Regions from separate parts of the Homo sapiens genome. Here regions 2, 3, 4, 5, 6 and 7 are each linked to region 1. The links come from fine-mapping of genetic effects on gene expression. A gene starts in region 1. Each other region holds a variant in brackets. All regions are shown on one strand. Distances are from middle to middle. Region 1 holds the start of CYP2D6 (cytochrome P450 family 2 subfamily D member 6 (gene/pseudogene)). Region 2 overlaps XRCC6 (X-ray repair cross complementing 6). Region 3 overlaps TCF20 (transcription factor 20). Region 4 holds the start of CSDC2 (cold shock domain containing C2). Region 5 overlaps TCF20 (transcription factor 20). Region 6 overlaps SMDT1 (single-pass membrane protein with aspartate rich tail 1). Region 7 has its middle 5.2 kb from the start of TCF20.

What was found. PIP is the estimated chance that this variant, and not a neighbour inherited with it, causes the effect. A credible set is the group of variants that fine-mapping cannot tell apart.
Region 2: its variant is the best candidate, but not a certain one, in a credible set for the expression of CYP2D6 in whole blood (INTERVAL, PIP 0.53).
Region 3: its variant is the best candidate, but not a certain one, in a credible set for the expression of CYP2D6 in whole blood (TOPMed, PIP 0.66).
Region 4: its variant is the best candidate, but not a certain one, in a credible set for the expression of CYP2D6 in whole blood (INTERVAL, PIP 0.69).
Region 5: its variant is the best candidate, but not a certain one, in a credible set for the expression of CYP2D6 in cultured neurons (Aygun 2021, PIP 0.77).
Region 6: its variant is the best candidate, but not a certain one, in a credible set for the expression of CYP2D6 in pancreas (GTEx, PIP 0.69).
Region 7: its variant is the best candidate, but not a certain one, in a credible set for the expression of CYP2D6 in whole blood (INTERVAL, PIP 0.57).

The regions. Positions count from the first base shown.
Region 1 is chr22:42,128,413-42,132,504 of GRCh38, forward strand. It overlaps CYP2D6 (cytochrome P450 family 2 subfamily D member 6 (gene/pseudogene)), which reads right to left and starts at 2,398. Exons shown (of 9, transcript NM_000106.6): 1 at 2,200-2,398; 2 at 1,326-1,497; 3 at 621-773; 4 at 372-532. The coding sequence starts at 2,379. RefSeq lists promoters at 2,404-2,870, 2,457-3,989 and a cis regulatory region at 3,683-3,694.
Region 2 is chr22:41,629,951-41,633,950 of GRCh38, forward strand. The region is part of intron 3 of XRCC6 (X-ray repair cross complementing 6); the gene reads left to right. Among named protein-coding and RNA genes, the nearest start is that of XRCC6, 11 kb to the left of the region's middle. RefSeq lists an enhancer at 455-1,108. The variant T/C (reference allele first, on the strand shown) is at 1,809.
Region 3 is chr22:42,235,163-42,239,254 of GRCh38, forward strand. All of the region lies in intron 1 of TCF20 (transcription factor 20), which reads right to left. Among named protein-coding and RNA genes, the nearest start is that of TCF20, 33 kb to the right of the region's middle. The variant C/T (reference allele first, on the strand shown) is at 1,598.
Region 4 is chr22:41,559,858-41,563,949 of GRCh38, forward strand. It overlaps CSDC2 (cold shock domain containing C2), which reads left to right and starts at 1,153. Exons shown (of 4, transcript NM_014460.4): 1 at 1,153-1,326. LOC105373044 (a long non-coding RNA gene) reads right to left here and starts at 1,026. Exons shown (of 2, transcript NR_134631.1): 1 at 863-1,026. The variant G/A (reference allele first, on the strand shown) is at 1,649.
Region 5 is chr22:42,176,665-42,180,756 of GRCh38, forward strand. It overlaps TCF20 (transcription factor 20), which reads right to left. Exons shown (of 6, transcript NM_001378418.1): 3 at 2,945-3,038. Among named protein-coding and RNA genes, the nearest start is that of CYP2D6, 48 kb to the left of the region's middle. The variant C/T (reference allele first, on the strand shown) is at 1,885.
Region 6 is chr22:42,080,573-42,084,572 of GRCh38, forward strand. It overlaps SMDT1 (single-pass membrane protein with aspartate rich tail 1), which reads left to right. Exons shown (of 3, transcript NM_033318.5): 2 at 1,353-1,493; 3 at 2,547-3,712. The coding sequence ends at 1,490. Among named protein-coding and RNA genes, the nearest start is that of SMDT1, 2.9 kb to the left of the region's middle. The variant C/T (reference allele first, on the strand shown) is at 2,142.
Region 7 is chr22:42,273,816-42,277,907 of GRCh38, forward strand. It overlaps a transcript of TCF20 not described here and the pseudogene OGFRP1. Among named protein-coding and RNA genes, the nearest start is that of TCF20, 5.2 kb to the left of the region's middle. RefSeq lists enhancers at 1,051-1,847, 1,848-2,644. The variant T/C (reference allele first, on the strand shown) is at 1,746.

The sequences.
Region 1 (4,092 bases):
AGGCCCCAGCCATCTCCAGGTAGACCCAGGGCCTGCCTGTCCTTACCACTGACCTCACCAAGTCCCTCCCCAAGTGCCAGCCTCCACCCTCTCTCCTTGCCCAGAGGAGAAACCTAAAATCGAAATCTCTGACGTGGATAGGAGGTACAGAGTCCTTGGCCTCTCCTGGTGCCCCCTGACCCGGGCACACCTCTCCCACGACCATGTCTGAGATGTCCCCTCCTCCTCCAGGCCCTTCTTACAGTGGGGTCTCCTGGAATGTCCTTTCCCAAACCCATCTATGCAAATCCTGCTCTTCCGAGGCCCCAGTCCAGCCCCGGCACCTCTCGGGAGCTCGCCCTGCAGAGACTCCTCGGTCTCTCGCTCCGCACCTCGCGCAGAAAGCCCGACTCCTCCTTCAGTCCCTCCTGAGCTAGGTCCAGCAGCCTGAGGAAGCGAGGGTCGTCGTACTCGAAGCGGCGCCCGCAGGTGAGGGAGGCGATCACGTTGCTCACGGCTTTGTCCAAGAGACCGTTGGGGCGAAAGGGGCGTCCTGGGGGTGGGAGATGCGGGTAAGGGGTCGCCTTCCCCGTCCCCCGCCTTCCCAGTTCCCGCTTTGTGCCCTTCTGCCCATCACCCACCGGAGTGGTTGGCGAAGGCGGCACAAAGGCAGGCGGCCTCCTCGGTCACCCACTGCTCCAGCGACTTCTTGCCCAGGCCCAAGTTGCGCAAGGTGGACACGGAGAAGCGCCTCTGCTCGCGCCACGCGGGCCCATAGCGCGCCAGGAACACCCCTGGGGGTGGGACGGGCACGTGCGCGTGGCCATGAAGGCATTAGCCCCACCATCCACCACCCACTCCAACCCTATGCTCCCCCTGGTCTCCCGCAGTCCCTGGCTCTGTCCAGCTGGTCACAGGGCCCACTCTTTGTGCATCCACCTTGCTCCCTTGGCTGGGGCAGGGCTTTGCCCCACCTCGTCTCTGCCCACCCTGACCGCCTTTGCACTCAGGGAAGACCCCGCGGGCCCCGCGCCACCCACACTGAGCTTACAGCACAGGTGCGGTCCCCGCCCCCCACTTCGACACCGGATTCCAGCTGGGAAATGCGCCAGCCTCACCCATTGGGCTCCTGCCAGGTCTCGGCAGTGGCCCCGCCCACTCGTCACAAGCCCCGCCCTCGTCCCCATGCTCACACCTCCCTAGTGCAGGTGGTTTCTTGGCCCGCTGTCCCCACTCGCTGGCCTGTTTCATGTCCACGACCCCGCGCCCTCTCTGCCCAGCTCGGACTACGGTCATCACCCACCCGGGTCCCACGGAAATCTGTCTCTGTCCCCACCGCTGCTTGCCTTGGGAACGCGGCCCGAAACCCAGGATCTGGGTGATGGGCACAGGCGGGCGGTCGGCGGTGTCCTCGCCGTGGGTCACCAGCGCCTCGCGCACGGCCGCCAGCCCATTGAGCACGACCACCGGCGTCCAGGCCAGCTGCAGGCTGAACACGTCCCCGAAGCGGCGCCGCAACTGCAGAGGGAGGGTCAGGGCCTCTTGTCAAGCCAGGATCACCCCAGACTACAGGTCCTAGTCCTATTTGAACCTTGGACGACCCCCGGGGCTACCAGGAGTGAGCAGGTGGAAGGAGGAGACCCAGCCTCCTGATCGTGGGGCGGGGGTGGGGGTCACACCTTCTGTGATGGAGGAACTCAGTTTGGATGCGTCACCCAGGTATGACCTTGCAAGAGTCACCAAAATTGCCGAGAGGCCCCAGTTAGCATCCCATTCCCAGATGATGGTCCATGCCGGTGAGCAGTGAGGCCCGAGGACCCACAGTGCAAAAGGTTTGAACCGGGTCACTGCACCCCCTTCATCCTCGATTTCGTGATTTAAACGGCACTCAGGACTAACTCATCTTCCATTCCCAAGGCCTTTCCTTCTGGTGTCAGCAGAAGGGACTTTGTACTCCATAACATATGTTGCCCAATGGGCTTGCATGCCCACTGCCAAGTCCAGCTCCACCTCCAGGCCCTTGCCCTACTCTTCCTTGGCCTTTGGAAAATCCAGTCCTTCATGCCATGTATAAATGCCCTTCTCCAGGACGTCCCCCAAACCTGCTTCCCCTTCTCAGCCTGGCTTCTGGTCCAGCCTGTGGTTTCACCCACCATCCATGTTTGCTTCTGGTAGGGGAGCCTCAGCACCTCTGCCGCCCTCCAGGACCTCCTCCCTCACCTGGTCGAAGCAGTATGGTGTGTTCTGGAAGTCCACATGCAGCAGGTTGCCCAGCCCGGGCAGTGGCAGGGGGCCTGGTGGGTAGCGTGCAGCCCAGCGTTGGCGCCGGTGCATCAGGTCCACCAGGAGCAGGAAGATGGCCACTATCACGGCCAGGGGCACCAGTGCTTCTAGCCCCATACCTGCCTCACTACCAAATGGGCTCCTCTGGACACACCTGGCACCCCCACCCCACCAGGCACAGAGGACCAGGCAGGACACTCTCAGCACACCGAGCGCGTGACCCTTCCCTTATAAAGGGAGCTGATGATGGCCTTTGCCCTCTGCTGTGAGTGAACCTGCTGTGTTGACTGTGCTGCCAGTGGCAGAGTCAGGCCAGGGCGGGTATGGGCTGCTCCAGAGGTTCTTGCCCCTGCTTCCTGCTCCAGGCCCTTACCCAGGGTAGGCCGGTGGAGGGGCCTGGTCGGAGAAGTCACCCCCTCTCCCCACTCCAAGCTCCTGAAGCCTGCAAAGCCTTCTGGGATAACCAGGGTTTCAGTGGACCCGGCCATCCACCTCCCAGCTAGGCTCATACACCCTAATGTAGTCACAACCCCTCCTCCAGAACATGGCCTTGCCCTTTCCCTACCCCCACCTGCCCACTCCAGAGTGACCTTCAGCACCCTTATCTGTCACTGGCACTTACCTGGGGCCTTAGAGCTCCTGATGATGAGTGGCATCATGGGCCTGGTCCCTTCACTTCACCTTGCACTCTTGACATGCACAGACGCTATGCACACACCTGATGGTGCACAGATCTCTTGTCCACTCCCAGACACTTGTCCACTTGTTCACACTTGCAGGGACACGATTACACACGCAGAAAATCACCCACACAAAGACAATATTCACACATACACAGACTCACACTGACACTTAGGGCACACATTCTCTCTCACACACACCAGTCACACACACATACAGACCCGGCACCAAGTACCCCACTTCCCAGCCATGCCGGAGGTTTCCTGGATGGGACCACTCCTGTCCAGAGGCTGCTCCCAGCCCAGCCCACATTCCTGGGCTCTGGCCGGGCTATGGCTTCTTGTTTGCAACAGGGCTGTTCCCAGAGCTCCCAGTTGGTAGCCGGAAGGCCCTTGCCCCAGCCTGTGACAACATCCTCCCGGGCTGCCTGAGGGTCGTCCTCCTCCACTGCTTTCTGGCCTCCATGTTTCTGATTAGAAATCTGGTGGGAACGTTATGGAGGATCCTTTGTTCAGGATATGTTGCTTTATTTTTTTTTTCTTTAGACAGGGTCTCACTCTGTTGCCCAGGCCGGAGTGCAGTGGCAGGATCATGGCTCACTGCAGTCTCGACATCAAGTGGACCCCCTGCCTCCCAAGTAGCTGGGACTACAGGCACCACCCAGCCTAATTCTTTTTTTTTTTTTTTTTTTTTTGGAGACGGAGATTTCCTCTTGTTGCCCAGGCTGGTGGCTCCCCTCCATTGTGCAATGATGCAATCTCGGCTCACTACAACCTTCACCTCTAGGCTTCAAGCAATTCTCCTGCCTCAGCCTCCTAAGTAGCTGGGATTACAGGTGTGTGCCACCACGTCTAGCTTTTTGTATTTTCAGTAGAGATAGGGTTTCACCATGTTGGCCAGGCTAGTCTTGAACTCCTGACTTCAGGTGATCCACCCACCTCAGGCTCCCAAAGTGCTGGGATTATAGGCATGAGCCACCGCACCCAATCCCAGCTAATTTTGTATTTTTTGTAGAGACCGGGTTCTTCCAAGTTGTCCAGGCTGGTCTTGAATTCCTGGGGTGAAGCGATCCTCCCACCTGGGCCTCCCAAAGTGCTGGGATTACAGGCCTGAGCCACTGTGACTACCTGATACGTCTCTTCTCTCTTG
Region 2 (4,000 bases), 500 kb before region 1:
CCACTGCGCCCAGCCTTGTGTGTGCATTTATGCTTTTTTTTTTTTTTTTTTTGAGTTGGAGTCTCGCTCTGTCACCAGGCTGGAGTGCAGTGGCACAATCTTGGCTCACTACAACCTCTGACTCCCTGGTTCAAGCGATTCTCCTGCCTCAGCCTCCCGAGTAGGTGAGATTACAGGCACGTGTCACCATGCCCAGCTAATTTTTGTATTTTTAGTAGAGATGGGGTTTCACCATATTGGCCAGGATGGTCTTGGACCCCTGACCTCGTGATCTGCTCGCCTCGGCCTTCCAAAGTGCTGGGATTGCAGGCGTGAGCCATGGCACCCGGCCTTGCTTTTTTTTTTTGAGATGGTGTCTCACTATTGCTCAGGCTGGTTTGGAACTCCTGGGCTCAAGCAATCCACCCACCTCAGCCTCCTGTGTGGCTGGGGTTAAGGCATGTGCCACTATGCCTGGCACATTGTGAATGTATTAAATACCTCTTAATTGTTCACTTAGAAAATCTAAATTTCAGCTTAATTAAAAAGATTAGTGTTTCTTTTTTTTTTTTTTTAATTTATTTTTTTTATTGATCATTCTTGGGTGTTTCTCACAGAGGGGGATTTGGCAGGGTCATAGGACAATAGTGGAGGGAAGGTCAGCAGATAAACAAGTGAACAAAGGTCTCTGGTTTTCCTAGGCAGAGGACCCTGAGGCCTTCCGCAGTGTTTGTGTCCCTGGGTACTTGAGATTAGGGAGTGGTGATGACTCTTAACGAGCATGCTGCCTTCAATCCATTTAACCCTGAGTGGACACAGCACATGTTTCAGAGAGCACAGGGTTGTGGGGTAAGGTCACAGATCAACAGGATCCCAAGGCAGAAGAATTTTTCTTAGTACAGAACAAAATGAAAAGTCTCCCATGTCTACTTTTTTCCACACAGACACGGCAACCATCCGATTTCTCAATCTTTTCCCCACCTTTCCCCGCTTTCTATTCCACAAAACCACCATTGTCATCATGGCCCGTTCTCAATGAGCTGTTGGGCACACCTCCCAGACGGGGTGGTGGCTGGGCAGAGGGGCTCCTCACTTCCCAGTAGGGGCGGCCGGGCAGAGGCGCCCCTCACCTCCCGGACAGGGCTGCTGGCCGGGTGGGGGGATGACCCCCCCACCTCCCTCCTGGACGGGGCGGCTGGCAGGGCGGGGGGCTGACCCCCCCACCTCCCTCCCGGACGGGGCGGCTGGCCAGGCAGAGGGGCTCCTCACTTCCCAGTAGGGGCGGCTGGGCAGAGGCGCCCCTCACCTCCCGGATGGGGCGGCTGGCCTGGCTGGGGCTGACCCCCCACCTCCCTCCCGGACGGGTCGGCTGCTGGGCGGAGAGGCTCCTCACTTCCCAGATGGGGTGGCTGCCGGGCGGAGGGGCTCCTCACTTCTCAGACGGGGCGGCTCCCGGACAGAGGGGCTCCTCACTTCTCCGACGGGGCGGTTGCCGGGTGGAGGGTCTCCTCCCTTCTCAGATGGGGCGGCTGGGCAGAGACGCTCCTCACCTCCCAGACGGGGTCACGGCTGGGCAGAGGCGCTCCTCACATCCCAGACGGGGCGGCGGGGCAAAGGCGCTCCCCACATCTCAGACGATGGGCGGCCGGGCAGAGACGCTCCTCACTTCCTAGATGGGATGGCGGCTGGGCAGAGACGCTCCTCACTTTCCAGACTGGGCAGCCAGGCAGAGGGGCTCCTCACATCCCAGACGATGGGCGGCCAGGCAGAGACACTCCTCACTTCCCAGACGGGGTGGCGGCCGGGCAGAGGCTGCACTCTGGGCACTT[T/C]GGGAGGCCAAGGCAGGCGGCTGGGAGGTGGAGGTTGTAGCAAGCCGAGATCACACCACTGTACTCCAGCCTGGGCACCATTGAGCACTGAGTGAACCAGACACCGTCTGCAATCCCGGCACCTCCGGAGGCCGAGGCTGGCGGATCACTCGCGGTTAGGAGCTGGAGACCAGCCTGGCCAACACAGCGAAACCCCGTCTCCACCAAAAAAATACGAAAACCAGTCAGGCGTGGCGGCACGCGCCTGCAATCGCAGGTGCTCGGCAGGCTGAGGCAGGAGAATCAGGCAGGGAGGTTGCAGTGAGCCGAGATGGCAGCAGTACAGTCCAGCTTCGGCTCGGCATCAGAGGGAGACCGTGGAAAGAGAGGGAGAGGGAGACCGTGGGGAGAGGGAGACCGTGGGGAGAGGGATAGGGAGAGGGAGAGGGAGAGGGATTACTGTTTCTTTTGTGTACTTCGTAGAGAAGAATTTTCACAGATTTATTATATATCTCATGTCTCATAATTTTAGAATTTGGAACTGAACAGAAACTTTTCATGTTCTAATTTGTGTACAAATAGTTCTTGGTAGGCAGGGTGTGGTGGCTCACGCCTGTAATCCCAGCACTTTGGGAGGCTGAGGTGAGTGAATCACTTGAGGTCAGGAGTTCGAGACCAGCCTGGCCAACATGGTGAAATTCTGTCTCTACTCAAAATACAAAAATTAGCCGGGCATGGTAGTGCAGGCCTGTAGTTGCAGCTATTCAGGAGGCTGAGGCAGGAGAATTGCTTGAACTGGGGAGGTGGACGTTGCAGTGAGCCAGGATCACGCCACTGCACTCCATCCTGGGTGACAGAGAGAGACTCCATCTCAAGAAAACAAGAAATAGTTCTTGTAGTTGGCACACCAGAATATCTTGCACCAAAAAAAAAGAATAAGCTGGGTGTGGTGGTGTGCACTTGTAGTCCCAGCTACTCAGGAGGCCGGGGTGAGAGGATTGCTTGAGCCCAGGAGTTTGAGGCTGCACTGAGCTATGATTGTGCCAGTGAACTCTAGCCTGGGCAACAGAGTAAGACCCTGTCTCTTGGAAAAAAAAAAAAAAAGAAAAGGCTGGGCGCGGTGGCTCATGCCTGTAATCCCAGCACTTTGGGAGGCCGAGGTGGGCGGATCACGAGGTCAAGAGATCAAAACCATCCTGGCCAAAATGGTGAAACCTCGTCTCTACTAAAAATACAAAAATTAGCTGGGTGTGGTGGCGTGCGCCTGTAGTCTCAGCTACTCCAGAGGCTGAGGCAGGAGAATCGCTTGCACCTGGGAGGCAGAGGTTGCAGTGAGCCGAGATGGCACTATTGCAGTCCAGCCTGGGCAATAGAGCCAGACTCTGTCTCAAAAAAAAAAAGTGTATGTAAAATAAAATAATAGAACTATGAATAAAAACAATCGTTAATTTAAAGTGGTTCTCAAACAGAATTACTTGCAGGACATTAAAACACAGACTACAGAACCTTGCCCCACAATCAAAATTTCTGATTCTCTATGTCTAGAATGGGGACCAAGAATTTGCATTTCTAGTAAATTGTCAGGTGATGCTGATGTTACTGATTTGGAGACCATTACTTTGAAGAGCAGTGCTTTAACCTTTTTTAGACCGTGGACCTATTTTTTTTTTTTTTTGAGACGGAGTCTCGCTTTGCTGCCCTGGCTCTTGGCTCACTGCAAGCTCTGCCTCCTGGGTTCACACCATTCTCCTGCCTCAGCCTCCTGAGTAGCTGGGACTACAGGCACCCACCACCACACCCGGCTAATTTTTTGTTCTTGTTTTTTAGTAGAGATGGGGTTTCACCATGTTAGCCAGGATGGTCTCCATCTCCTGACCTCGTGATCTGCCCACTTCGGCCTCCCAAAGTGCTGGGATTACAGGCATGAGCCACCGCACCTGGCCAACCGTGGACCTCTTTGAGGATATGATGACAGCTACATACCTTCCCCTCAAAAAAGATAGTACTCACAATTCTACCTGTAATTTCAGAGAGTTAATGGAACCCTTGATGCCTAAAGACCTCAGAAGAAAATGTAGTGTTAGGTAGGAAGGAAATGAGACATTCATAGATGAGCACAATTTGATAACCGATAATAAGTATTCAGTAGTTGATAAGCAATAGAAAACATTTTCTAAAATTCTGTTTTAGTTTTTGTTTTTAATTTTTAGAAC
Region 3 (4,092 bases), 110 kb after region 1:
TTTGTAAATGTCTGTCGCTCTAGACCTTATTTTAGGGTGCAAGCCATAACTATGATAAGGAGGGTGCCATGTATAAATGTAACAGACACTGAGACAAAAGAAAACTACTCCTGACAGCAGTTTGCTGTCTTTCCCAAGAGATTTGAGGAACAGTAACCATAAAACTTTCCTCCTCCCTTCTCAACTGGGGACTTCTCTGATGTAATATCAGGGAGAAGAACAAGGGAACATTGGGTATCAACTGGTGCACACCATCTCTCTCCTGAAGTGACAGAAAGAACATTGAGTAGTACTATCTTACCTAGAGTCAAACTAAATGACTTGAACAAAGAGACCAAGAAAAACATGTTTAGAAAATCATCTAGAAATAGGATTTTATTTTAGTAAGCGAAGTGAACAAAAAATACAATTTTATTTGTACATACAATTGCTTCCACTATTAAATTTGTTTTCTATTGATTCTTCTGGGTCATCTGTTGGAAAAAGTACTACATTTAGAATTAAGAAATCTAAATACTTCCTAGTCTTGCCACTTGTTCTGTGACTTGGGCAAGTTATTTAACCCATATGTCTCACATTCTTCACCTGCAAAAGTGGAGTTAACCTACCTTGCCACCACACGGGAATGTCCCACAGTAAGTCTGCAAACAGCTAAGTACCATATAAATCAAAATTATCACTGTTAGAATTACCACCCTCTTTCCCTCTCTCAGGTAAAAACTTGAACCAATAATAAAATAAGTAAAAGACACCAGACATGGTGGCTCACGCCTATAATCCCAGCACTTTGGGAGGCCGAGGCAGGCAGATCACTTGAGGTCAGGAGTTCAAGATCAGCCTGGCCAACATGGTGAAACCCTGTCTCTACCAAAAATACAAAAATTAGCTGGGCATGGTGGCAGGCACCTGTAATCCGAGAATCACTTGCTTGTACACCCAGGAAGCAGAGGTTGCAGTGAGCCGAGATCTCACCACTGCACACTCCAGCCTGGGTGACAGTGAGATTCCACTTCAAAAAAACAAACAAAAACAAAAACAAAAAAACAAGTAAAAGACAACAAGGAAAAAAATGGAAAAGAGGTTATCAAACAAACAAAATAAACCCTAAAAAACACAATAAATAACTACTGATTGGTGTAACAGCACTCTGTGACAGGTAATTTTTGTCATTCTCGAGTTAGGAAAGATCCCACACCCTGGGATCTACAGTCCATTCATAGAAATCACAGCAGGGTTAAATCCTCATCAATCCTCTAATTCACAATGAAGAATGCCGACGGAGCGCATTCTTAATCTATATGGCAAGAACTACAAGCCACAGGACCAATCCCCACCCTCCCCACAGAGGGACAGTGGCCTGACAGTTGGAGCTCTACTTGGAGGCAGATGGCCTCTAAAGTGCAAGAGTTTTCCCTTCTTCCCTGACCACTGGCATGCAATTAGCAAACACCCTAACCCCAGTCATTCTGAAATAAGCCAATGGAGAGTCACCTGCAATCCTAAATTTTGAAAATAAAAAAGTCAAAGAGACACAAACATTCTATGAAAAATCAGCCACAAGCATAACATTGCAGGTATTGTGGGTCTGGTTCCAGAC[C/T]GTGGCAATAAAGCGAGTCACACAAATTTTCTGGTTTTCCAGCACATATTAACTTTTATATGTGTACGCTATACTTCAGTCTACTAAGTGTGAAATGGTATTATGTCTAAAAGACAATGTTCATACCTTAATTTAAAAAATACTTTATCGTTAAAAAATGCTAACAATCATCTGAGCCTTCAGGGAGTCCTAATCTTTTTGCTGACGGAGGGTCTTGCCTCCATGTTGATGGCTGCTGACTAATTAGGGTGGTGGTTGCTGAAGGCTGAGGTGGCTGTGGCAAATTTCTTCAAATAACACACCCATGAAGTCTGACGCATCGACTGGCTCTTCCTTTTCTAAGAGATTTTTCTATAGCATGCCAAACTGTTTGATAGCATTTTACCCACAGTGGAACTTCTTTCAAAACTGCAGTCAGTTCTCTTCAACCCCGCCACTGCTTAATCAACTACGTTTATGTAATATTCTAAATCTTTCATTGGCATTTCAACAATGTTCACAGCATCTTCATCAGGAGTAGATTCCATCTCAATAAATCACTTTCTTTGCTCATCCATAAGCAGCAACTCCTCATCTGTTCAAGTTTTATCATGAGATTACAGCAATCCAGTCACATCTCCAGGCTCCACTTTTAATTCGAGTTCTCTTGCTATTTCTACCACATCTGCAGTTCCTGCCTCCACTGAAGTCCTGAACCCCTCAAAGTCATCCATGAGGGCTGGAATCATCTTCCAAACTCCTGTTCATGTACTGACCTCCTCCCATGAATCACAAATGTTCTTAATGGCATTTAGAATGGTAAATCCTTTCCGAAAGGTTTTCAATTCACTCTGCCCAGACCCACTAGAGGAATTATTATGTATAGCAGCTAGAGCCTTATGAAACATATTTCTTAAATAAGACTTGAAAATCAAAATGATTCCTTGATCCAGGGGCTGCAGAATAGATGTTGTGTTAGCAAGCATGAAAACAACATTTATCTCCTTATACATTTCCATCAGAGCTCTTAGGTGACCAGGTATACTGTCAAGAAGTAATATTCTGAAAGAAATCTTTTGAGTAGTAGGTCTCAACAGTGGCCTTAAAATATTCATTAAACCATTCTGTAAACAGATGTGCTGTCATCTAGGTTTTGTTGATCCACTGACAGAGCACAGGCAGAGTAGATTTAGCATAAATTTATGGGCCCTAGAATTATTAGAATGGTAAATGAGCACTGGCATCAACCTAAATTCACCAGCTACACCAGCTCCTAATAACAGTCAGCCTGTCTTTTGAAGCCAGGCACTGACTTCTCCTAATTATGGAAGTCCTAGATGGCATCTTTTCTGACATAAGGCTACACTGAATATCTGTTCAATATAGCCACCTTCATCAGTGATCTTGGCTACATCTTCTAGATAACTTGCTGCAGCTTCTACATTAGCACTTGCTTCAACTTGCATTTTAATGTTACAGAGATGGTTTCAAGAACTTTAGGAACCAATCTGTGCTAGCTTCAAACTTCACTTCTGCAGCTTCTTACTTTTTTCAGCCTTCACAGAAGTGAAAAGAGAAAGTCTTGCTCTGGGATTAGGCTCTGGCTTAAGGGAATGTTGCGGCTGGTTGATTTTCCATCTGAGTCACTAAAACTTTTCCATATCAGCAATAAGCTGTTTCGTTTTCTTCTCATTCATGTGTTCACTGGAGTTGTACTTTTAACTTTCTTCAAGAACCTTTTCTTGCATTCATAACTTGGCCACGTTTGGTGCAATAGGCCTAGTATTCAGCCTATCTTGGCTTTTGACATGCCTTCCTCACTAAACCATCATTTCTAGCTTCTGATTTAAAAGTGAGAGATGTGCAATTCTTCCTGTCACTTGAACATTTAATGGTCATGATCAGGTTATTAACTGACCTAACTTCAATACTGTTGTGTCTGAGGTAACAGAGAGACCTGAGGAGGTGGTGAGATGGGGGGACACCCAGTTGGCAGCAGTCTGAACACACATCTATACACAACATGTATATATTAAGTTCGCCGTCTTATATGGGAGTGCTTTGTGGCGCTCCAAAACAATTACAAAAGTAACATCAGGCCGGGCGCGGTGGCTCACGCCTGTAATCCCAGCACTTTGGGAGGCCGAGGTGGGTGGATCATGAGGTCAGGAGATTGAGACCAACCTGGCTAACACGGTGAAACCCTGTCTCTACTAAAAATACAAAAAAATTAGCCAGGTGTGATGGCGGGCACCTGTAGTCCCAGCTACTCGGGAGGCTGACGCAGGAGAATGGCGTGAACGCGGCAGGCAGAGCTTGCAGTGAGCCGAAATCGCACCACTGCACTCCAGCCTGGGCGACAGAGCGAGACTCCATCTCAAAAAAGAAAAAAAAAAGTAACATCGATGATCACTGATCACAGATCTTCATGACAGATAACAATTTTAAAAGTTTAAGGCTGGGCGCGGTGGCTCATGCCTGTAATCCCAGCACTTTGGGAGGCCGAAGCGGGTGGA
Region 4 (4,092 bases), 570 kb before region 1:
AAGTCAAGTCCTTCCTCCTCCCTGAGCCTCTAATTCCTCACCGGTAAAGTAGGGATGATAAAAATAAATTATTAAATTGTTGTGAGGTTTCAATGAGGGCAAAGCTTGCTGCCTGAAACAGAGCAAGCTCTTGTGGCGTCTTAGCTATTTGTATTAGTTACTTGTATTTTTCTCTGCGGTTTCCCTTTTAACTCCCACCTCCTTTTTATTTTAAAAAGACTCCTTTTGAAAATGCCAGCCTGCCTCAGTAGTACCAGGAGACACCAGGGAAAGGCTTCCTTCTTTCCAAGCTGAGGCTGAGAAGGAATGGGAAGAACGAAGAGAAGCACCTTTGTGGAGGCCTCCTCCAGCTGGCCCTGGGTTTAGGAACATCACACACTCAACCTCCAAAGGCCCTCAGGGGCTGGCCCAAGGTCACACAGCTTGACAGTGCGGAGCACTTCGAAGCCAGGGCGTGTGGTGTAGAACAGGCTGGGTGCCTGAATTCAATCAGCCCTCTCTACTTCTCTACTCAGAGCCTCCCAGGCTGTGGGGTGTTCACCTGTGCACCTTCAAGCCGATCACTTCCTTGGGGTCCTCGTCAATTCAATTCCATGGAAATATTACAAGGGGTAGACAGAGATGAGCCGTGTCAGTGTCTGTACTAGCAGAGGGCAGGACCACTGAGCGTCCGGAGGGGAGACGAGTGTCTGGGTGTCCCTGGGAACCTGGCTTGTCTCGACCCCTCTGGGGGGCTCCTCTTGGCTCTGACCTCCATTCTCCCAGACTCACCCCCACTCATGCCCACCCACCCCGAGGGGCCCCCCAGTGTGCACTCACACACTCACACTCAAACTCACCACCCCACTTGCTCTCTAATTACCAGGAACGTGGCGCTGTCTCAGGTTCTTCCTCCCCTGCATTCCTCAGCAGCTGCCCTCACTGGGCAGGGCAAATTATACCGTGGCCCGACCATAAAAGCCACTTTCCAAAAAAAGAAGCTTTAAGGCCCCCGAGAGACGCAGCTGAGCCTCTCACCTGGCAGTGCCTGACTCAGGAGGTGATGTCTGGGCCATGAGCCACAGAGCCTGGTGTCCCTTTAAGCAGGGAGTACAAATTCTCATCCCTCCCTCCTGCTCTCCCTGACGTCAGCTGGAAGGCGTGTGAGTGAGTGAGGGGCTGAGGTACCGCCCGCGCGAGCACACACAGACACACACACACACACACACACACACACACACACACATCTTCCAGACCCATCCCCTGCCTGCCAGCTCCACGAGCCAGAGAGAGACAGAGCGCGGACGCCGCAGGAGGCAGTGCCTGGACCCCAGCTGCCCAGGAGAGGTGAGGGGCTAGATGGGGCCTGAGGACACTGTGCCAGAAACTGTGGCTTTGGCCAGGCCGAAGGAGAGAGGTACAACGTGAAGGTGGGGGCTGGATCAGCCCAGTTCAGCTTACAGATAGGGTGTTGGGGGTATAGAGGATACCACCTGTCTCTCCCTCCCTCATTCTCTCCCCGTGACCCCCAAATGAGGTGAGGCCGTGTGGCTCCCGTGGGAGCATGTCTGTGTCTGTGTCTGTGTCTGTGTCTGGGACCTGCGTCTGGCTCAGGAGGCAGAGAGCAGCAGATACCTGCCAAGCCGCAGCCTCCTGTCTGGGAAGCAGC[G/A]GGAGAGAGGACCGCCTTGACCAGAGAAACCCCAGTGCCGCTTCCAGTTGCTGAAAGCAGAGTGCAGCAGGGACCCTTGCTGGTCCTTCCCCTGGAATGTTGGGCTGGGAAGGGACCGGCTGGGAAAGGCAGACAGTTGGACCTGGAGCAGCTGTCTTATCCTGACTCTATTTTTTCCCCAGTGTGATGGGGATAATTGTGTTAGTTGGCTTAGAGAGGTGGCTCCGTGTGGTTATTCTCTTCCCCCAGGTACCACCCCACCCCGAGCCCTTGCTTCTTGCCTGCCTGCTGGTCTGCTCTGACCTCCACCCTTGCCAGGGCACAGCCCCCGGAGGGCAGGGGTGATAAGTCAGGGCCTGCCAGGCCTCTATCTTGGGATACAGGGACTTAGGGTGGCCTTGGCTGGTGCCAAGCCCATGAATGGCCTGACCCTGGCACAAGGAGTCCAGGCGGAGATAAGGGGCGACGCTGGCACCCACAAGGAGACAGCAGGTTCCTGCCAAGCTGCCAGCCTGCAGGCTCTTCCCAGGGAGAGGGGAGGGGGACACAGAGCGAGAACAATAATAAATACAGAGTGTGAACTGCTGCATCCACTGGGGCTGGGGTAGGAGAGGAGGAAGTATGCCCAGTGGGGGGTGGGCAACCTCTCTGAGAGCCTGGCATCATGCTGCCTGGCTGTGATCCGGCAGGGGCCTCTCCCTGGGAAAGGGGGTCTCCAGCTTTCTGGGGGATGGGGAACTGGTTTCCCAAACCTGACTCCATCCCAGAGTCCTCTGGACCCTCCAAATTCTGAATGTTTCCTCCTCCCAGCTTTGCCCTGCCGCCCCCCATTTCCTTGAAGTCTTCTCCAAAAATGTCTGTTTTCTGTGTCTGCCCATCTTGACCCATCCTCACCCCCTTCAAAAAAAAAAAAAAAGACAGGTATAGACAGGAACTGCCTGCCCGTGTCCTGGGAAAGGCCAGAGGACAGTTTTGGCCACAGATGGCTCTCCCAGGCTTGGAGAGACATGGCTAGGCAATGTTCACGGATGCGCAGGGGGATTCCCTGAGGGGGACTTGGGGACACTCTCAGATGGCTGGTGGGGAGGGGACACCTGCCAGCCAGTCTGGAGTAGAGCCCCCTAGGGGGTAGAGGGCGCTCAGGACCTGGCTGAGCCAGTCATGTCCACGGTCACAACTGGGGCAGCCAGGACCCAGAGCCTTGTAGGAATGGGGCTTGGGGCAGTTCAGACCTTTGTCCATGCTGAGCAGCAAAATGGGAGGCTAAAAGTAGTAGGGAGCTCTTCTGCCCCACAGCCAGCAAAATGACACTCCTGGGCTGGGGGGCTGGCATGGCACACCAGAAAGCTGTGGGGTCACACTGATTGGAGTTCAAGTTCAGATGCTGTATGTATGTATGACTTTGACCAGTCTATTCCTCTCTCTAGGGGGTCTCAAAATGGGAAAGTGACTTGCCTAGGGTCGCACAGCCAAGCACAGGTGGGACTGGGGTGCGTATTTGGCTCTCCCAGTGCCGTCCTGGTTTCCCCACCACCACCCAAGCCACAGAAGCCCAAAGGCCTTAACCACAGCAGTTCCCCAGGGCAGCCTGGGCATGTGACAAGGAGGACTACAGGGTCTCTTAAATAATTAAGCTCAAGTATTGGCTGGGGCAGCCCTCATGCACAGACGCAGGCACACAGGCTGTGTGGGGGAAGGACCAGGTTTAATCAGGTCACCTCAGGCTGCAAGAGCAGTTCAGGCACTGATGTATTTTAAGGAGCATCTGGGAGGCTGGGGGAGGGGGAGGAGCCAGGGAAGTGTCAGCTCCTGCCCGGGGGTCCTGAGTTTGTTTTCTCACTCTCCCAGGGCCCACCATGCACAAGCTCCCGATGTTCGGGAAGCCCTTCCAGCGTCATCCTTGTGTTCCCCGTCCTTTCTATTTTTAAACCACCGTACCCATTCCTCCCATCTGCTCCCCTGTGATGGGGGCTTGGGGCTGGGACATTTTTATTGGGGGAGTTGTTTTTAAGCTTAGCAGAGTTGGTGAGTGACTCACCCAAGGTCATGGTCTGAGTCAGCGCAAAGCCAGAAATAAAAGCCCCAGTCCTGGCTCCCCAGGAATTCCACACCCGACTCCTCCTTCTCCAGGGGAGGGTGGGCGCCACCCTCAAGGAATGGCTGGTCTTCACCTCCCCAGACATCTCCAGAGGGCAGATATGCTGCACCTGACCTGCTGTGAGAGCTCAGCGAGGCTCTTCACCTCTCTGAGCCTCAGTTTACTCTTTAGAAGATGGGTGTACTAAGCCAGGCGCAGTGGCTCATGCCTGTAATCCCAGCACTTTGGGAGGCTGAGGCGGGCGGATCACGAGGTCGGGAGATCGAGACCATCCTGGCTAACACGGTGAAACCCCGTCTCTACTAAAAATACAAAAAAAAAAAAAGAAAAATTAACCGAGCGTGGT
Region 5 (4,092 bases), 48 kb after region 1:
GCTGCCTGGGTGATGGTCTTAGATACATCTAATGCTCAAGTAACTAGAGGACATTATGTCAAGTGAAATAAGCCAGGCACGGAAAGTTAAAAGCTGCATGTTCTCGCTCATGTGGAAATTTAAAAAGCTGATCTTACGGAAGTATTAAAAAGTAGAACAGAGGATACTAGAGGCCAGGAAGGGGAAAGGAAAGGAAGAGATAAGTAGAGATTTGTTAAAGAATACAAAATTACATCTAGATGGGAGAAATAAGTTCTAGTATTCTGTATCACTGTAGGATAACCACAGTTAACAACATTATATTGTATAGTTTCAAATGACTAGAAGATACCAAATGTTCCCAACACAGACATGTTGTTTGAGACGATGGATTTGCTAATTACCTAGGTCTGATCATTTTATATATATATTGAAACATTACTGAGCACCCCATATCTACAATTACTGTCCATTAAAAAAAGTAAAAAACGCTGGGCGCGGTGGCTCACGTCTGTAATCCCAGCACTTTGGGAGGCTGAGGTGGGTGGATCACCTGAGGTCGGGAGTTTGAAACCAGCCTGGCCAACATGGCAAAACCCCGTCTCTACTAAAAATACAAAAATTAGCCGGGCATGGTGGTGGGCGCCTGTAGTCCCAGCTACTCGGGAGGCTGTGGCAGGAGAATCACTTGAATCTGGGAGGCAGAGGTTGCAGTGGGCTGAGATCATGCCATTGTACTTTAGCCTGGGCGATAAGAGCGAAACTTCGTCTCAAAAAGAAAAGTAAAAAACTTAATAAACTTGAAATTAACACCCACCTTGCCGCCAAAAAAGTAACTGGGGAAAACACCCACTGAAGGGACTAAAAGTCTAGAGTAAGAAAGGTGATTTTCCCAGGTTATCGAAGCTCTGAGTCAAAACTCAAGTCTTCTGCGTCACTCATTGGATGGCACTTCTTTAACAAAATGTTTCCCTTCTTTCAACAGTTAACACACTGCAAAACATCCCCCTATCATCTCAGCAAAGAAAATACAACACTCTATTGTATGTATACAACGTACTGTGATTTAGAGTAAGAAATACATATTTTAGTCTTCATCCCTGATTCCTGGCACAGACCTCCTAAAACCCGTGTAAATTCCTGAGCAATTAGGGGTGCTAGGAGCATCTTTTCTTCTAATATTTGGTTTTTGATCCTGGTTCCTGACATGGAGCTCCTAAACCCTTGGAATTTCCTGGATAGGAGCACTTTTTGTTCTAAGGCTACTCTTGGTGGTTCCTGGATGGGGGCTGGGCACCAGAGAGACGAAGCTGTGATTAGCAGCTTGGAACTGTTAGCTCTACCCACCCCACTCCAGGAAGGACAGAGGGGGTGAAGATTGAGTTAATAATTGATTATGCCTACATGATGAAGCCTCCAAAAAATCCGTGAACTACTGGATTCAGAGGGCTTCTGGACTGCTGAGTAGATGAAGGTGCCTCAGGGGTGGTGCCCCTGGAGAGAGCATGGACGCTCCATGCCCCTGCCCACACATCTGGCCCTATGTTTCTTTCATGTGGCTGTTCATCTGCATCCTTTATAATGGGTAAACACAAGTGAAGTGTTTCCGTGAATTCTGTGAGCCATGTTAAACATTAATCAAACCCAAGGAAGCGGTCTTGGGAACCCCAGTTTATAGTTGATCACTCAGAAACACAGGTCATAACACAGGGCTTGAGATTGGTATATGAAGTGGGGAGCGGTCTTGTGGGACTGAGCCCTTAACCTGTAGGGGCTGCACTAACTCTGCTTAGTATCAGAACCAAGCTAAACTATAGGACACCCAGTTGGTGTCCAATGGTGAATTACCTGTGTGATGCTATCAAGAAAAGAAAGTAAAAAGACAACTCAGAGAATGGAAGAAAA[C/T]ATTTGCAAACCACATATCCAGAATTACAAATAATTCTTTTTTTTTTTTTTTTTTTTTTTGAGACAGAGTCTCACTCTGTTGCCCAGGCTGGAGTGCAGTGGCGTGATCTCGCAACCTCTGCCTCCCGGGTTCAAGTGATTCTCCTGCCTCAGACTCCCGAGTAGCTGGGACTATAGGTGCGCGTCACATCTGGCTAATTTTTGTAGTTTTAGTAGAGACGGGGTTTCACTATTTTAGCCAGGCTGGTCTTGAACTCCTGACCCCATGATCCACCCGCCCGGCCTACAAATAATTCTTAAAACTTGACATTAAAAAGATAAACAACCCAATTTTACAATGGGCAAAGGATGTGAATAGCTATTTCTCCAAAGAAGATGTACAAATGGCCAATAGGCACAAGAAAAAAATGCTCGACATTAGCCATCAGGGAAATACAAATAAAAACCACAATGAAATAACATTTCATACCCACTGGGCTGGCTACAATTAAAAAAAAAAAAAAAAAGAAACACATATGACAGCAAGTGTCAGGGAGGACCTGGGGAAAGGAGAACACTCATGCACTGCCACTGAGAACGTAAAATGGGGCAGCCATTTTGGAAAACAGTCTGACAGTTCCTTAAAAGGTTAAACAGAGTTACCATATGATCCAGCAATTCTACTCCCAGGTACACATCCAAGAGAACTGAAAACATGTTCACACAAATGCTTGCATGTGAATGTTCTATAGCAGCATTATTCATAACAGTCAAAAAGTGGAAGTAACCCAAATGTACAGCAAAGCCCACAGAGATAGAAAGGATTGAGTCCAACAGAGCTTAAAGGGAAAAAAAAATCATAAAAATTTAAAAAAGAAAACAGAATAGTGGTTGCCAGGGACTGGAGGGAAGGGAAGGGAGATGAGTGCTGCTAATGGGTGGGAAGTTTTTTTATGAAGTGACAAAAAAAAAAAAAAAAAAAAAGAAAAGAAAAGAAAAAAAACAACGACAACAGAGAGAATCAAACTGTATGTCCTAATCCTTTGGATGCTCTGGACAAGGGTCTGTGGTCTCCTCTTACCTGCATCAATGGCACACGGGTAATGGTATCGGAAGGAGCAGCCTTTGTTGTAGCAGCCCAAGGTGGCGCCTGCCTCCTGGCAGTGGGAACATTTCTGAAAGGAAGGGAAAAGTCAGGCATGTCAGTATCCCAGATTTGGCCCTCTCCTCCAGGCCTTCCCTGGTCCCCATCTGTTAGACCTCAGCACGTGTCTCTGTGGTTAGAGGAGTCCGTGGTGGCAGGATGAGCTGGTCAATTTCTAAATGCCATTCACTGACCACACCATGGGAAGGGATCCAGCAATAATGTTTTAGACCAAGCCTCACAAATGTTCTCAAATCAACAATACAGCAGGGTGAGATGAGCAATCCATGTCATAAAGGACATGCCAGAGTGGGGTCCCCAGCCCTGCCTCTGGTACCCCCGCCATCCACCCACCCACACACTATGCCAGGCATTTCCTTGCTGCTATCGTGAGCGGCCTGCAGATCTTCCCTGTTTACTTCTGCTGTGAAAATCTGGGGTAAGAGAGGGTAAGGTAGTAGAGTTATATATAAACCTTTTAGAATTAGAAGTGGAATTTGGTTTCTAGTTCTTGTATTTGTAAGAAGATTTTATTTTTATTTTTGATCTACTTACCCCAAATGCCCAATACATTTCCCTTTTCAGAAAATATGGGCTCCTGTGTGCAAATGGTATTTTTATACATGAATCTTATTTTAAATGCACCAGAAAACCTGCCATGAATTTCTGGCTAAGTGAGACATTATTTTGTAATTGAGACACTCCTCCTTATATGGTCAGGTTTTCTTAAAGTGGGGCACATCTCTGTCAGCCCTGTGATGTGGCTGCTGTGAGTGCTCATCCTGTCAGGTAAGAAATGTGTCCTATCAGCAACAAACACATTCATAAAACTCAACCACATGTGACCCTACTAAGGATGCTGGCTCTTCAGATAGCAGAGGCACACAACCAGCAAGACTAGCTGGAAGAGACAGAAACTTGTTCCTGCTTCTATGAAAAATAAAAGTGTTCCCTAAGCAATTACACTGAGCTGGCTCAGGCCCCCGACACAGATACTGATGGAAAACTACACTAACGCCAGCAACAGCAAAGCCCAAGCGCTCGCCACGCTCAGACTGAATGATCTCATCCAGCCCTCTGCACTA
Region 6 (4,000 bases), 48 kb before region 1:
TTGAGTTTTTCTAGGGAAAACGGAAACAGTCCCTTATATCAAGCGAAAGTTTGCTTTACGACTGCAGGGCTGTGTGGTGTGGGAGTTAAAAAAACAAATTCTCTTAAAGCTAGTCTAGCCTATGCTAACTCACACAATTGACTGTAGGTCCATGTTGGGAAAGACCTGCCTTATCAAAACAGTTGAAAAAAAAATTTTTTTAATTCTAGGAATACGAGAGAAATGTTGCTGAGATTTTACTGACATTCTCCCAATCCATCTAAAGTCTTTGAGTGTAAATACATGCCCACTTTCAAATACATCTGTTTCTAAAATTTTTAAATCAAATTTCTCAGGCATCAGGGAACCTGTTACTTAGTGAACTGTGTAGAATATCCCTTCACTGTACATCTTTCTGTCATCGGTTTTCGTGTATTTCGTGTTCAGGCAGAGCTCACCGTAGTCTGGCCCTCCTAGTACTGGTGCACCCGATTGCCTGTAGGGATTTAAAGTAATTAGCAGGCTGTGTCCTAACTTTAGATGTCTAGGGTGCCTTAGACTTTTCTTTCCAGTGGACTTTTCGTCCATTTTGATGGCCATAACAGTCACCTTATCTCCTTTTTTTTTTTTTTGAGACGGAGTCTCACTCTGTCACCCAGGCTGGAGTACAGTGGCACAATCTTGGCTCACTGCAGCCTCCGCCTCCCGGGTTCAAGTGATTCTTCTGCCTCAGCCTTCTGAGTAGCTGGGACTACAGGCATGTACCACCACACCCGGCTAATTTTTTGTATTTTTAGTAGAGACGGGGTTTCACTATGTTAGCCAGGCTGATTTCGAACTTCTGACCTCGTGATCCGCCCGCCTCAGCCTCCCAAAGTGCTGGGATTACAGGTGTGAGCCACTGCGCCCGGCCTTTTGTCTTTTTTTTAGACAGAGCCTCACTCTGTCTCCCAGGCTGGAGTGGAATGGTGCAATCTTGGCTCACTGCAACTTCTGCCTCCTGGATTCAAGCAATTATCCTGCCTCAGCCTCCCGAGTAGCTGGGATTACAGGTGCGCACCACCATGCTGGGTCAATTTTTTGTATTTTTAGTAGAGACGGGATTTCACCATGTTGGCCAGGCTGGTCTCAAGCTCCTGACCTCAGGTGGTCCACCCACCTCAGCCTCCCAAAGTGCTGGGATTAAAGGTGTGAGCCACCCTGCCTGGCCTTCTCCTTTTCTAATTACTTTTCTTGCCCTGAATTTTTCCAAGGACTTTAAAATCAAGTTGCTTATGATGGGTCTGAGGGTATGTCTGTGAGAGGGCCAGGTCTTCTTTGGTCCTGCCAGAGTGGGCTCTGGAGCTCACAGCTGCCACTCTGACCCTCTGCAGATGTCCTTCGGCCTTCTCCGTGTGTTCTCCATTGTGATCCCCTTTCTCTATGTCGGGACACTCATTAGCAAGAACTTTGCTGCTCTACTTGAGGAACATGACATTTTTGTTCCAGAGGATGATGATGATGATGACTAACAGGTAAGACTTGCTTTACCCTAGATGGAGCAGGAAGCAGGGTGGAGCATCTGTCTGTGATGCAGTCTGGCCTGGTAGCAGCATTTGGACACTGGGGGCAGAAGCATTAATGAATTGGCCCACTTGGTGGCTAATGTTTTCGTTTGTTTGTTTTTTGAGACGGAGTTTCGCTCTTGTTGCCCAGGCTGGAGTGCAATGGCATGATCTCGACTCACTGCAACCTCTGCCTTCCAGGTTCAAGCGATTCTCCTGCCTCAGCCTACCGGGTAGCTGGGATTACAGACATGCGCCACTGTGCCTGGCTAATTTTGTATTTTTAGTAGAGACGGGGTTTCTCCATGTTAGCCAGGCTAGTCTCAAACTCCCGACCTCAGGTGATCCACCCACCTTGGCCTCCCAAAGTGCTGTGATTACAGGCGTGAGCCACTGCGCCCAGCCAACTTCATGTGCTCTAATATGTGCTGCATGGCATTCTGTCAAGAGATGAGGACACTCCTGTTCCTTAGCCTGGCATTCAAGGCTTGCCATAATCTGGTCACACCTCTTATTCCAGTCTCATCTTCCATATTTCCAGCCACACACCGATTCCCAGTATTCACCATTTCTTGAGTTTTCACACTCATACCCACCCCCAAACATTGGCTCATTGTT[C/T]CTCCCACATGGAAGGCTCCTTCCCAGAGCTCTGGGTCTTAATTCCACCCATTCTACAGTGTCTTTGAAGTCTTCGTTCCTCCTTTCATTTGAAAGTTGACGGCTCCTTCCTCTAAGCAACCAGTACCTCTCTTCAAATACTCGGTATTATGTGGCTAAACACACACAAAGCAAAATTTTACTAGACTCTGAGCTTCTTGCTGGCAGGGGACGTTTTTTATACATTGCGGCCCCCAGTGCCTGGCCTGTGGTGAATGCCCAGTTAACGTGCGCATGAACAACCAAACGTGCTCAAAGCTGCCTTTCTCCTGCCATGTTTGATAGAAGCACTTTGTGGAATTCTTTCAGTCTGCGGATGGAAGACTACGCTGTTGCCCAGTTCACTGCTGCTTTCCTTTCTTACAGGAATTACAGAAAGGAGAAAGCACTAACTGAAGAAATGGTGATGCTCTCAGTTTCTCTGCCTTCCCTATCAGCAGAAAGGCTCGGGGAAGGCCCTCAGCCTCCCAGTCTGGTGAAGCTTCCTGTATGGTCCATGACCGTATTCCACCCCAGGCTCTGGGAGGCTCCCTGAGATGTGCTGTCCACTAAGCACTGCACAAACAAGCAATCAAATTATGAATAAACATAATAAATATCAGCCGTGCGTGACTGAGTGATGGCTGCAGTTTCTCAGTATCCCTAGGTTCTAGTTGGTGCAGTTGTCTCTGCTGTCCTTTATTTATGGGAGAAACATAGGCCCAGGCTATCCAGGCTGCAGTGGAGCCTGGTGAACTATTCTGGGGGCCCTGGGAACTATTTTCATTGTTTACAAAAGCCCAACAGAAACTGTGCATTTTCCCTTAAGAAAGCTTCATGGGCTAACTAAAGCCTCATGCCATTCTGTGTTCAGTGCCAGTCATGACAGCTCTGCTTGTTAGCATACTACTTAAATATAACTAGAATGATTCAAAACTCGGGTTCTGTGATATGAGGATATAGATAGGTTTTCATCTATTTCCTGGCTTATAACTCCCAAAACCCTTGTTTTAGGCTTTTGTTATAATGTTGGGCACTTCGGGCCTCAGAAAACAGCAGGCTGTTTCTCAGATCTTCTCCTGACCTCCTTTCACCTGCTGCTTTTTCTCCCCAAGGCAGGCCATAGAAACTAAAAGTATAATCTTCCTTTGCCCGTCTTCCAGTTGGCCATAAAAAGAATCCTCTGACCTACCTTGTCTGATTTTAGGTCATGAGACCCCCATTTCAGAAGGGATTCTGCCCCATACCTGAGAGGAAGAAATGTAGACAGGCCTTGTTGGACTTCCCCACTCCATCTGTATTAGATTATGCCTCTTTTGTCCAATCCCATTTCTCCAGTGTTGTCCATGCTTCAATCATCCCTATCCAATGAGGTCTCCATAAAAGGCCCAAGAAGACAGGTTTAGAGAGCTTTCGGAGAACAGAACACTTGGCTTTGCAAAGTGGCACGCCTGGAGAGAACTTGGAAGCTCCACGCCCCTTCTATACCTCACCCTATGCATCTCTTCAGCTGTATCTTTTGTGATATCCTTTATAATAAACCAGTAAACGGACCTAAGTGTTCCTCTGAGTTCTGCAAGCTGCTCCAGCAAATTAAAAAGAAGGGGTCAGCCAGGTGCGGTGGCTCACACCTGTAACCCCAGCACTTTGGGAGGCCAAGGCGGGCAGATCACAAGGTCAGGAGAGCGAGACCATCCTGGCTAACACAGTGAAACTCTGTCTCTATTAAAAAATAGAAGAAATTAGCCGGGTGTGGTGGCGGGCACCTGTAGTCCCAGCTACTCGGGAGGCTGAGGCAGGAGAAGAATGGCGTGAACCCGCGAGGCAGAGCTTGCAGTGAG
Region 7 (4,092 bases), 150 kb after region 1:
CTTTTATTACAAACTCCTCTGCCCTCCTCCAGGCGCCTGGGCCACTCCAGGATTACAAATGGAGCCTTCTGCCTCTAGGTCACTGATTCTACTACCATCTGTCAGCGTGGATTGATTGAGGAGACTGGCCCTGCTCGGCAGATCAGTGACTTGTGCGAAGTGAGCCAGGGTGTCGGTGCCTTCAGAGCAGGCGGATGTCCTTCCTCACTTGCCAGCTCTCGTGAGCAGACACACAGCCCTCACCTTTATCCTTCACCAAGCTCCAGCTCTCCTTCCTCTTGGGAGGCGCCGCCTGCTAACTCAGTCACACCAAGAGGGAGGCCTGGAATTCCTGCTCACAAGCTCGGGGCTTCATCTGCAGTCTGCCAGGAGGCAACTTACAAAAGCCTCTGGCTAACAGAGCGGGAAACTCCCCACAGCCTCCTGCTGTGCCTGTCCCCAAGCCACGCACTGTCCCCTTGCAAAGCACAAGGATACTGAGAGTGCACAAACAGCAGGGGTGGAGAGCCTCTGTGGGCACGCCCTCATTCTGTGCCCTCATTCCACAGGAGCCCCTGCTTTGTGCAAGTCTCTGAGCCCGCATGGAGGGAGCATGGGGGCTCAGAACAGTTCTTTCTGGGGCAAGGTCAGGGGAGGCTCTAAAGTTATGGTGGTGGGGAGGGCCTTAAAACAGAGGACCAGAGAATACCAAGACTTAGGGGTGTGGGGGAGAGCCACCTGCTGTGCCCAGGAGGACTGTGCCCAGTGCAGGGGAAAAAGATGAAGCTGCGGAGTTGGGCAAGGGTGGGATCCTGCAGGGCCTTAGAGCATTGACATGTTTGGCATGGATTTGTTTCACAGGGTCCCACAGAAACTTCTGCTCTCCAGGTTTGCCCCTCCACTCTGCCCTCCAGGATAGAAGTGTGGCATCCTAATCTGGGATGCATCCATCTCTCCCCCTGGACTGTGAGCATATGCAGGGCAGAGACACCTCTGCTTCTCTTGGGTCTCCGGCATCCTGTGCAGGGTAGGGCACCATGTCCATTAAAATGATGTTAATGAGGATGATACAGCCCAGAGGAATCCAGGCTTACTATGAACCAGGCACTATGCAGATTTCCCTTTATCATCCCAGTTCTTCTTATTTGCAGCAGTCTAATGAGTTTGGTACTGTTATCACCCCTATTTTACAGATGGGGCCACTGAGGTGCAAAGAGTTTAACTTATCCCAAGTCACACAGTTTGGAAGAGGCTGAGCTGGTATTTGAACCCAGGTTTTCAGAGGCTGCACTCTTAACCACCAAGCTTCCCAGCACTCAGCAAACACTGGAAAGACAGAGATGGACCTAGACAGTCAGTAGGACCAAAAGTCTGCAGGCCGATAGGGAAAGAATGTAAGAGGACGGCATGGGCAGCGCCAGCCCCTCCAGCAGTCATATATTAAGCCCTGGACACTGGGCAGCTCGGGCAGGTCGGGGGGCCTCAGACTCTCGGACCCCATGCCTGGAAGACCACGGTCTGCCCAACAAGCAGCAGCTGCTGTGAATCGACTTACACATCTTCCCCACAGGTGAGCAGAGAGCTAACACCTGAGGATAGGCCAAGAAACGGGAAGCCCGTGCAACCTGAGCGCACAGATCACCCCCACCTGCCCGGCACTCACTGTCCCCAGTGGCTGGACTCTCATCGGGCCAGTCACTGAGCTGGCGCCAGCCTGGTCTCACCAGTGTGTGTCTTTAAATCATCCAATTTCTTCAGCTGTAAAT[T/C]GGGCTGGGAGGGGCCAGGTGAGCTGCCTGCCTCAGGGGAGTCGGCGCCCTTACCTGAGTGATCCCATTCACTCCTCACAACAAACCCATGAGGCAGGGATTGTCATCTTCATTGTACAGAGCAGGAAATGGGTGCACACAGAGGTTAAGAGACTTGCCCAGGTCACACAGCTAGGAAGAGGCTGTGATTTGAACTCAGTCTTCTGGCTCCAAAGCCCCCACAGAGTCACTCAGGGCACTACAAAGAGTTAACCTGAATATGAAATGATCTAAGAGTCGCAGTGACAAAGGCATGCTCTAAGCGCTTTTCCTGCAGTAACTTGCTTAATCCTTACAACAACCCTATAAAGTGGGTACTGTTCTCGCCTCATTTTGCAGATGAGGAAACTGAGGCACAGAGCAGCTCGGAGGGGGCAGAGCTGAATCTGACAGGCTACAGGGCCCCTGCGTTGCTTTGTTATAAGATGACAATAAGGAAGTTCCTTTCCTTTGGGATTATTTCTGCCTGAAAGCTCAAGACTTTTAGCCACATCATTGTCTGGGCTCCACGGGAAGGCAGTGCCACATGCTGAGGCATGCTGGGAAAAGACTTTGTTCCATCCTGTTTTGTTGACATGCTCTTCATTTTTAAGCCTGAAACCGAAGCTTCCTGCTAAGAATTCAAACCATGGAGAAAAACGCAGCCATGATAACGGCCACTACTTCCTGAGCCTCCAGTGTTCCCTGTGCTTGGGGATCCATATATGTCACTTAACCTTAACCTTCACAACACCAGGGCAGCCTCCATTTTCACAAGTGAAGAAATGGAGGCCCAGAGTCACTTAGAAGATGCTCGAAGGTGCACAGCTGCTAAGTGGTGGTGCTGGGATTTGTCCTCAGGTCCTCAAGAGTCCTGACTCTTATGTGCTGGCTCCCCACGGAGGCGTGGAGTCTTGTTTGCTGGGCATTTGACAGAAATGTTTCTGCTCATCTTCTGCCACAGGTTGGTCCTTCAGCGTCAAGATTCCTGGGCCACTTATTAATAGAAGGCACCAGGACACAGGTGCAGGGATGCAGAGCTGGATGCTGCCTTCTCAATAGGAGAAGCCAAGAAACGCAGATGCCGATGCTTAATCAACTCCGTCTCTCCCTCTAGTGACTCGGGGATAGCTGCCCTGATGCCAAGGCGATTGTCTTCTGGAAGCAGCCACGCCGTGTGAGGTTCCTCATCACTGCCCTGCATCTCCCTGCGAGCTCTCGGGGATAATTGCAAAATCACGTTTGATTCCAGGGGAGCAGAAAGCAGCAGGAGCCGTGAATTCTCCAACTCTTAACTGGTCCTCGACTGGAGCCACTTTTCCCTGCCCACCCATCCCTGTGGCGGATTCATTACAGTTATCCAAAGCCGGTTTTAACTTTGCTCCCCCTGGCTCAGAAGTCTGTCAGTGGGTCCTGAGCGGCTTCACCATTCAAGTTTATTCCTATCAGCCTGGAATACAATGCTCTATCTGGCTCCGCTTGCTTCTCCAAACCTTCTCTCCCAGGTCTCATTCTGCCTCTCTGTCTAACTAGACAAGTTGGCTTCCTGTCCTGTGCCTGTCTGCTCCCTGCAGCAGGAATGCCGTTCCCTCTTCCCTACAGATTGAAATTATATCCTCTTTCAAGTCTTACTCAAATGCCACCTCCTCCACAAACTCTTAACACTTATTCATTCATTCAACAAACATTGACTGAGCCCTTATGACAAGCATTGATCCCAAGGGTCCCTGTGGTCATGAAGTTTATGGTGCCATGGAGCTGTTAGAAAAAGAATCATCACATAAATAATCATCTGATAACAGCCATGATACAAATTAGTAAGAAAGTGTGGCAGGAGCACAGCAGATGTACAATAGGGACCCTGAGCCTTGGGGATCTAGGACATTTGAGCTGAGGCCTGAAAGACAAGTAGGAAGTAACCACATGGTGAAGTTGGAGGAGAGCTCCAGGCAGAGGGCACGGCATGGGCAAAGGCCCTGCGGTAGGAGGGAACAAGTAGATTTCCAGGAAGGGCACAGGGGCCTGCAGGGTAATGTAAGTGAAATGAGAAAGCTGGAGATGCAGCTGGAGCAGGACAGTACAGGCCACAGAGGCTTTGCGACTTTATCCCTGGGCAAAAAGAGGAGATGATGAAGGATTCTGAGCACAGGACACAAGCCAGTATGTATTTAGACGCGATCCTGCCCTGTGGCTGAGCCTCTTCTGAGAAGTGCAGGCCCTGTGTCACGTCACCCTGAACCTCAGTCATCAGGGTTTTGGATGTGAGTTTCCATATCCCTCTTCCTAGGCCAAGCTCTCAAAGGCAAGGCTGACCTCTGGTCTTCAGCTT